3 linked regions of the Homo sapiens genome follow. The protein of the gene in region 2 purifies or fractionates together with the protein of the main gene of each other region. This does not show direct contact. Each region holds a gene or a part of one and is shown on either strand. Other genes may lie near its edges.

Region 1 (2,757 bases), on a different chromosome or scaffold from region 2:
AGAGGGGAGACGGAAAGTCACGGGGAGACACCGACAGCCAGAGGTGTGGAGACAGAACGAGAAGACAGAGCAGTGGCGGTGAGGGAGGAAGGCAGAGGGCTGGAAAGAAACGCACAGAAGCAGGGAGAAGGGACGGGGGACAGAGGGACAGAGTGACTGGAGCTGGAGGGGGAAGAGTGCAGGGAGGCAGCTTGCTTTGGCAGGACGCATGGAGGTGTCAGACGTGGGGGGCGGGGTGGCGGCCAGGCCAGCGAGCCAGGCCAGGGCCAGGACGGACAGGAGACACGGGGGTGGGGGCCGGATGCCCACCTAGGGGTTGTCTCCCAGCGGGGCCCGCCCTCCCTGACTCAGCCTTTCCACCTACCCCGACCCCGGGAGAACTGGGAGGGGGATGGGAGGCACCCGCCCTGGGGCCCACCACCCCCAGGTCTCAGAGGCAGTGACCAGGGGGTGTGTCTCCCGTCATCCCTACCCCACTCTGTCTCCACCTCTCTTCCTGTCTCCCCATCTAATCCCTGTCCCTGGGACTGGCTCCACCTCTGTCTGTCAGCTAGATGCTCACGTCTTGACCATCTGACTAACCCTAATTCTGACTCAATTTCTGTGTCTCTCATCGCTTTTTAAAAACCTACACAACAAATTTACGTATAGCAAAGTATATTGTAAACAAATTTAATGACCAAATGATAGACTGGTAAAAAATGTGCCTATCACCAAGGGCTGATACCTTTCCTGTGGCCCAGGCCCTCTGCTCTTTAAAAATGGGGCACAAATACAGGCAGGTAAGAGACAGACAGCTCTCATCCTGCACTCTTGGCTTTCTGAGAGATATGACCCCAAGGTCCTGGAGTCTAGCTGCTGCTTCCTCCTCTGGGAAATAGAGGAGTGATATTGGTAGTACCTAGGGCATAGCACTGCTGGGACAATTCAGTGATTTGGGGACTGATCTCCATATCAAGATGACCTGATCCTGTCTGTGTGCGGGACAGTGGCTAGCACGGAGCCCTTGTTAGGCCCGCCTACCATCTGACCCTTCTCAAACCTTCCCGTCTGAGGACATCTGCATGCACACTTGTCCCTCCAATGCTGTCTCACTCTGGATGGCCCTGACACCTGAGAGGCCAGACAGCCAAGTGGTTTCTAGGACCTTTGTGATTCTAGGCCTGGGTTCCTGTTTCATTTCTGCCTCTGATGGCCGAGTGGCCTTGAGGAAGCAACATCTTTCCAGGCCTCCTTTGACCCACTTCACTAGTTCATGGGGCCATCTGAGGATCCAACCCGGTGTCAGGCACTTCGCTCGGGCCTGACAGAGGACAGAAGCGCTCCGTAGCAGAGGCTTTCGTTCTTTAATAGTCGCTCTGAGCATCTTGTCTGCCTCCATCCAGCTCTCACTTTCCCTGTCTGGCTCTAATTCTGGTTGACCCAGAGGGCATAGCTGAGGCTCGGAGGTCAGGAACCGTGGACTCCAGGAGGCAGTTTTGAGGGTCCTTCAGGCTTGGCCACGGCAGGATACCACCATTCCATCTCAGAGGCATGAGGAGTCCCTAGGCCCCGACTTGGTGACCCTTGCCCTGTGTGCCCCCTCAACAGTGGCCAGGCCCTCCTGTGTGTGTCTGCTGGGGGAGCAGGAGCCGGGTGTGGGGGCATGGGAAGGCGGGACGCCTGGGTTCCCACAGGCCCGGTGGCTGAGTCACCAGGCGGCCATCTGGCTCCCATTAGCCCAGGGCGGCAGGGGGCTCCATGGGGCGGGCCCTGCGGCCAGCTGGGGGCAGGGACGCTGGGGCAGGCTGTGTGTGGGATGACTCAGGACCCATGATAACAGCCTGTGCGCATTTGGGGAGTGTAAACAGGAGAGGGAGAGGAAGGCGGAGGAAGGGAAAATTGTGGTTGGGCAGAGGGGGGCTGGTGGGGCTGAGAAGGGTAGAGTCCCCCCTCCCTCTACACTCAAGCTGGCAGGCCCCGTGATCCACAGCCTGGGTCCTGGGGAGAGAAGAGAGCTGCCCCCATCCTCCCTGCCTGGGGTCTCCTCCCTCCCCTGGGGCTGTATTACTCAGTGGTCAGGGTTCTGCTGCCTATAGCAGCCAGGTTTGAGGGAAGGGGGAAGAAGGGGCCCAGAGCCTGGAGTGGGGGATCAAAACCCAGAGATAAAGGCTGAGAGACAGACAGAGAGGGACAGTGAGAGCAGAGGCCTAGAGAGGTGGAAATGTACAAGTAGAAAGAAGAGGCCCAGAGTGAGGCAGAAGGAGAGATGGGAACCTAACAGAAGCAAGGAGGCTCTGAGTGTGAGACACAGCGCAGACATAAACAGAGAGGGGGAGACAGACAGCACGGGAGGCAGCTGCGCTGGGGCCTAGGGGTCAGCACCGGAACCAAACTGGCCACTTCCAGCCACGAAAGGCCCTGCCAGCTGGCCTCCGGCAAGGGGAGGACTTTCACCTTGGGCCCTGCGGTGGAGACAGAGCCTAAGGCAGAGAGAGAGGGGGAGAAAGGGAGAGACAGCCAGCCAGAGCACTGGAAAGAGGGAGCGGGGGTAGGGAGAGAGACAGAAAGACAGAAAGAGACAGAAAGAAGCCCAGACAGACACCAAGAAAGACAGAGGCAGGAGACAGGGTGGGAGAGATGAGAAAGGGAACCCCAGAAACAGTGGGGGTGGGGGTTGTCTGAGATGAGACTAGACCCAGTGAGATGGTGGTGTGTGTGGGTTGTGGGGCACTGCCCTGATGTCCCCCTAGAGAAAGGGTCACTGAGCAGGCCTGG
Region 2 (3,276 bases):
AGCCCTAATTATCAACCTCACACCTTGAGAGCCATATTATAATTTGAACTTTTAAAAGCATGTATCTGTACCTACCACGTATTGGACACTGAGCTAACATTATTTTCTTATTTTTTTGAGACAGAGTCAACCAATTCTTGTGCAGGTGTGCGCCACCATGCCCGACTAATTTTTGTATTTTTAGTAGAGATGGGGTTTTGCCATGTTGGCCAGGCAGGTCTCGAACTCCTGGCCTCAAGTGATCCACCCACCTCAGCCTCCCAAAGTGCTACAATTTTCTTGACTGGCATTAAAATCTTAGAGTAGGAATAAGAACACCTAAGCGTGTAACTTAGCCTCTGTGAGCTTCGGATGCTTCATGTATCCAGTGCCATCAGGCTCTATCACGTGCCCTACCTTCCACGTGGGTTTAATAATCAAAAGAGGTAACAAGTATCAAAGAGTTTTAAAAAGTACAAAGTACCAAGTGCCTGCTACATGCCAGGTAGGGTCAAACCAAATCATCCTGATTTGACTGGGACTGTCCAGGTTTTAGCACTGAAAGTCCAGTGTCCCAGAAAATCTCTCAGTACTGGGCAAACTGGGAAGGTTGGTCACCCTAGTGCCAGGTGCCAGGTATACAATAAAGCATGATCACAGTAATGGAACAGAAAAACAGCTGTTTCTCAATCTATAATTTAGACCTAAGCTCCTGTACCCTAAACTTCTATTAACCTATTCAACACATAGACTATGTTCTTTCTGCGACAGGCACTAGAAATACAATAGTGAAAAAGATAAGCATCATCCCTTCCTTCAAGCTTATATTCAGGCAGTAGAAAGACATTAAATAAATATGAAATCATTATAAATCTTTTTTTTTTCTTTTTGAGACGGAGTCGCACTCTGTCGCCCAGGCTGGAGTACAGTGGCATGATCTTGGCTCACTGCAACCTCCACCTCCCGGGTTCAAGCGGCTCTCCTGCCTCAGCCTCCTGAGTAGCTGGGATTATAGGCATGCACCACCACGCCTGGCTAAGTTTTGTATTTTTAGTAGAGACGAGGTTTCACCATGTTGGTCAGGCTGTTCTCAAACTCCTGACCTTGTGATCTGCCCACTTCAGCCTTCCAAAGTGCTGGCATTACAGGCGTGAGCCACTGCGCCCAGCCCTGAAATAATTATAAATCTTAAGAAATGTTTCGGCTTGGCACGGTGGCTCATGCTTGTAATCCCAGCACTTTGGGAAGCCGAGGTGGGAGGATCACCTGAGGTCAGGAGTTCAAGACCAGCCTGGCCAACGTGGTGAAACCCCATCTCTACTAAAAATACAAAAATTAGCCAGGCATGCTGGTGGGTGCCTGTAATCTCAGCAACTCAGGAGGCTGAGGCTGGAGAACCACTTGAACCTGGGAGGCGGAGTTTGCAGTGAGCCGAGATCGTGCCATTGCACTCCAGCCTGGGCAACAAGAGCGAAACTCCATCTTAAAAAAAGAAATGTTTCATACAAGAAGTAGAAAGCTGTAACAGATAGGGAAACAGGGAGCTACTTCAGCTAGGGTGGTCAGGGAAAACCCCTCTGAAAAGGTGACACTGAAGCTGAGACCTGAAGAATGAGGAGGAGCCAGGCATGAGATGAGCTGGTGAAAACCATTCCAGATACAAGGAAAATAGAAGCACAAAGGTTCTGAGCTGCTCTGCACTCTTCTGAAGATGCCCCTGCTTTATTCCCTGTCCTTTCATTTTGGCTTTCTGAAACATTCTCTAACTTCACTGATTTTAAGCATCCCTTAATTGAGTACTATCAATAAATTTTATAATGCCCTAGTAAACCAATCACAACCACTTTTTATATTATTCTTCTATTTTCTTTTCTTTTGTTGAAACAGGATCTCACTCTGTCGCCCAGACTGGAGTGCAGTGGCATGATCTCGGCTCACTCACTGCAGCCTCAGCCTCCCAGGTTCAAGCGATTCTCCCACTTGAGCCTCCTGAGTAATTGCATTACAGGCGCGTGCCACCATGCCCAGCTAATTTTTGTATTTTTTTTTAGAGAGGGGGTTTCACCATTTGGCCAGGGTGGTCTCGAACTCCTAACCTCTGGTGATCTGCCTGTCTCGGCCTCCCAAAGTGCCGGGATTACAGGTGTGAGCCACCACATCTGGCCTATTCTACTATTTTCTATATTATTCATTTAGTATACATCGGGTGCTTACCATGTATCGCACAAGTGCTATCAACACAAAAACAAAAATAATATATGGTACGAGCCCTGGAGGAACTCACAACCTGCCCAGGGTGACAGATGAATATAGAGACAACAGCAAAACCATGTGTTAACCTAGGAGAGACACATGGAAATGCTATGGGAGCAGAAGAGTGGCTAATGTACACTGGGAAGGAAAACTGATAAAGTACCTTCACAGACACTGTGTAATTTCATCCAAATTAAAATTCTTTTAAGACAGTAGGTTAGGAAGACTGTATTTCATAGATAATTGAAACCCAGATAAGGTTAAATATTTTCTCCAGTTTCGTAAGAGTAGGCAAGCCAGTATTTGAACCCAGGCCTTACAACCAATCTATGCTGTTTCCACATTAAAAGCTAAAAGGCCACCACCCAGATTATCTCATACATGAAGAGAAAACCAAAAAAGCTAGGCAACTAGTCACACACATGGCTAGTAACAAGGCCTGAAGTAGAATCTTGTCTCCTGATCCCCAAGGCAGGGATTCGCCATGTTGGCCAGGCAGGTCTTGAACTCCTGGCCTTGTATACCATTCTGTATCTAGAGCAGGGTTTCTTGACCTAGAGTCCATGTATCCCCTGAAATATATGCAACATGAGTGTATTCTTCTGTGGAAGGAGTCTAAAGCTTTTATCAGATGCTCAAAGGACTGAGACCTCCTAAAAAGGACAGCTGGTCTATAACACTTTCACTTTCATCCCCATCTGAGTACCAATGATCATGTATTTCCAGCTCTTGGTTTACTCTCTGGAGGGACAGTGTCATTCAAAAGGAGGGTCCTCAAGACCTCATAGTCCTAAAGCCAGGAAGGAGCTCTCAAGTCATACAAGACGGAATTCCGACTAGAAATAAAAACTTTATACGTAGTCATTACTGTGGTAAAATAATAATTTTTTTAAAATAAAAACTTTAGAAATCCTTTCAGATGGACTCTTAAGTCACTAGCCCTTTCATATGAGTTCGGGTGTCAGAGGCTATGGTACTGTGTAATGTAGAGGTTCAATTTAGAGTCAGAAGATTTTACCACTAAGCACTGTAAGATAGAAAGGT
Region 3 (3,656 bases), on a different chromosome or scaffold from region 2:
TGGAGTGCAGTGGCGCGATCTTGGCTCACTGTAGCCTAGACCTCTTGGACTCAAGTGATGGATCCCGCCTCAGCCCCACCAAGTACTTGGGACTACAGGCGTGTGCCACCATGCCCAGCTAATTTTTTGTATTTTGTGTAGAGATGGGGTTTTGCCATGTTGCCAAGGCTGGTCTTAAACTCCTGAGCTCAAGCAATCCGTCTGTCTTGGCCTCACAAAGTGTTGGGATTATAGACGGAAGCCACTGCATCCAGCCTTACATAAGATTTCTTTAAATTCTTTTTTTTTTTTTTTTTTTTTTAAATAAATACCATGTTCCTGGCTGGACACAGTTGCTCACGCCTGTAATCCTAGCACTTTGGGAGGCCAAGGTGGGCAGATCACCTGGGGTCAGGAGTTCAAGACCAGCCTGACCAACATGGAGAAACCCCGTCTCTACTAAAAATACAAAATTAGCTGGGCATGGTGGCGCATGCCTGTAATCCTAGCTACTCAGGAGGCTGAGGCAGGAGAATCGCTTGAACCCAGGAGGCGGAGGTCGCGGTAAGCCGAGATTGTGTCATTCATTGCACTCCAGCCTGGGCAACAAGAGCAAAACTCAAACTCAAAAAAAAAAATTTTTTTTTGTAGAAATAGGGTTTCACTGTATTGTCCAGGCTAGTCTTGGACTCCTGGACTCAATCAATCCTCCTGCCTCAGCTTCTCAAAGCCTTGGGATTACAGGCATGAGCCACTGTGCCCACCCAGATTTATGTGTTCTTCTAGGTGTTCCTGTTTTAGACACAAACAATACTAGGTACATGGAAAATAAAACAACATGATCTTTCAGTCAGCAAAAAGGTATTTAATGTCTTTTCTTAAAGATGTTTAAAAATAGCTTATCACAGGCCGGGCGCGGTGGCTCACGCCTGTAACCCCAGCACTTTGGGAGGCCAAGGCAGGTGGATCACCTGAGGTCAGGTGTTCAAGACCTGCCTGACCAACATGCAGAAACCCTGTCTCTACTAAAAATAGAAAAAATTAGCCGGGCATGGTGGCTCATGCCTGTAATCCCAATTACTCAGGAGGCTGAGGCAGGAGAATCGCTTGAACCCATGAGGTGGAGGTTGTGGTGAGCCGAGATCATGCCATTGCACTCCAGCCTGGGCAACAAGAGCCAAACTCCGTCTCAAAAAAAAAAAAAATAGCTTATCACAAGAGATGAGGTTTAATATGACAATCTCAAAAGGATCACAAGGAAATCCATGATTAGATTCCTCATGGAATTGTGAAGAAATGTCCCAGAGTTGTAGTGACCAAACTTCAAGTTCCATGCAGGCAAGTCAGATCCCTTGTCTGTTTTGTTGTTTTCTGTACCCCGTACTTGGTACAAAGATGCTTAATAAGTAGTTACTTGCGTGAACAAATGGCACCTTTGAGCACCTTGTTTTAGGGTGTCAGAGTCTTTAACCAAGACCCTAGCATGAGGTAATAATCGACAAACGTTTCTTTTAGTTTAATGTTCATTAACTTGATCTTTATTTTGTAAAGTTATTATGTCTGATATTTTCCTTCAGTCCAGTGAAATTAACACTCCAGTTGTAGTAGGATTGAATGATAGGCAAGCAAAAAAAACCAAAATTAGCCAGCCCTTGTTACTTCTTTAGAAAACACTCAATTTTGATCTCACTTATTGGAGATTATATTGTAACTTGTTACAGTATAAATACCTAACTGAATTTCTTGTCATTTCTTTCCTCTTTTCAGAAGCTGGATTATATCACATACCTGTCCATCTTTGACCAATTATTTGACATTCCTAAAGAAAGGAAGAATGCAGAGTATAAGAGGTAGGCATTAATAGTTTCTAGGCCTCTCCTGGATTTGATTAGAAGATAATGTGAAGTTTTTGAGGGTGAAGTTCTGAATTTGTTGCCTGGAAGGCATACATGAAGGCATACTTCCAGGTTTATTGGAGGATGGGGTTATGAATGATGTGGTTTTAAAACCTTTGCGATAGTCTGGACGTGGACAAAGGTGTGTCTGTGGGCACATCTTCCATCTTATGCCCATAGTGTTCTTAATTTTGTCTCATTATAGAAGGAACTCTCCCACTCTGGGATTTCTGTGTTTTTGGAGTTTAATGGGAAAAAAAATTAGACTTTCTCAGATAGTGACTGAAGTGAGATGCTTAGGTGTGATGTATAAGTGAAAAATTTATGTTTTTGTTAATTACTCTCCTGATTAGTGATTTTATACCCTTCCCCTCTTTTTCTCATTTTCTTTTTACTGAAATCTTTTATGTGCAAAGTAATTAAGACCTTAGTATTTAGCATCATTTTATGAGAATAAAAGGAGGCGGGAAAGGTCAGAATCAAAATGACATGTTGGGAAAAAAGTCCATTGTAAGTTCATTTAAAAATGAGTATTGGCCGGGCGCGGTGGCTCACACCTGTAATCCCAGCACTTTGGGAGGCCGAGGCAGACGGATCACCTGAGGTCAGGAGTTCGCGACCAGCCTGACCAACGTGGAGAAACACCGTCTCTGCTAAAAATACAAAATTAGCCGGGCATGGTGGCGCATGCCTGTAATCCCAGCTATTCGGGAGGCTGAGACAGGAGAATCGCTTTAACCCGGGAGGCGGAGGTTGTGGTGAGCCAAGATCCCGCCATTGCACTCCAGCCTGGGTAAGAGGAGCGAAACTCTGCCTCAAAAAAAAAAAAAAAAAAAAAAAAAGAGTATTAAAAAGATAGCATTACTAGAATTATAAGTACTTTATATTCTGCAGGGAATAACAAGATACCAAAAATAGAAACCCTTTTTGCTTTGTCTGCATTGTGTGTTCCTCTGTAGATACCTAGAGATGCTGCTTGAGTACCTTCAGGATTACACAGATAGAGTGAAGCCTCTCCAAGATCAGAATGAACTTTTTGGGAAGATTCAGGCTGAGTTTGAGAAGAAATGGGAGAATGGGACCTTTCCTGGATGGCCGGTGAGCTTCAGTGGGATGTGAATGGTGGACATGCCAGGGAATTGAAGTAATTATTTTCCTTTATCTTGAGCTTCCACTTTAGGGCATTAGGTATCAATTCCTTGGTATCACTTGTGACAATGAGGTATTCCCTGCCAAGTATGCTATGTTTTTTTTTTTTGGAGACGGAGTTTCGCTTTTGTTGCCCAGGCTGGAGTACAATGGCGGGATCTCGGCTCACCTCAACCTCCGCTTCCCGGGTTCAAGCAGTTCTCCTGCCTCAGCCTCCCGAGTAACTGGGATTACAGGCACGCGCCTCCACACCCGGCTAATTTTGTGTTTTTAGTGGGGACAGGGTTTCTCCATATTTGTCAGGCTGGTCTCAAATTCCCGACCTCAGGTGATCCGCCCACCTCGGCCTCCCAAAGTGCTGGGATTACAGGTGTGAGCCACCGCACCTGGCCGTATGTGAGTTTTTTTGAGTGTACTTTGGAGCAAGACTGCCAGGGTCCACTTGCCTTTGACTGTGCCCAGATTTTCACCAATCACATCATTACTGCTATGTGGTTCCTGCCAACCAAGAGCTTATCAGATCATATGTTAGGAATCTACATTCTCACTTCTAGGGATAAACATGAGTTTTTCCTGAACTCTCCAGGGAGAGAATGTGGACAAACCTTAGCTTCATCCTAAACCTGGTGGGGT

Evidence for each region.
Region 1: the proteins of SF3B6 (region 2) and CCDC97 purify together in Homo sapiens (affinity purification with mass spectrometry; 4 studies listed by BioGRID and IntAct, with this or other methods). This does not show direct contact.
Region 3: the proteins of SF3B6 (region 2) and SF3A3 purify together in Homo sapiens (affinity purification with mass spectrometry; 3 studies listed by BioGRID and IntAct, with this or other methods). This does not show direct contact.

Annotation. Positions count from the first base shown.
Region 1 is NC_000019.10:41,322,773-41,325,529, reverse strand, and holds the end of CCDC97 (coiled-coil domain-containing protein 97), read right to left. Parts: 3' UTR 657-2,757; downstream 1-656. UniProt on the Homo sapiens protein: May play a role pre-mRNA splicing through the association with the splicing factor SF3B complex which is involved in branch-site recognition.
Region 2 is NC_000002.12:24,070,142-24,073,417, forward strand, and holds part of SF3B6 (splicing factor 3B subunit 6), read right to left. Parts: intron 1-3,276.
Region 3 is NC_000001.11:37,979,902-37,983,557, reverse strand, and holds part of SF3A3 (splicing factor 3A subunit 3), read left to right. Parts: intron 1-1,746; coding exon 1,747-1,829; intron 1,830-2,833; coding exon 2,834-2,972; intron 2,973-3,656. UniProt on the Homo sapiens protein: Component of the 17S U2 SnRNP complex of the spliceosome, a large ribonucleoprotein complex that removes introns from transcribed pre-mRNAs.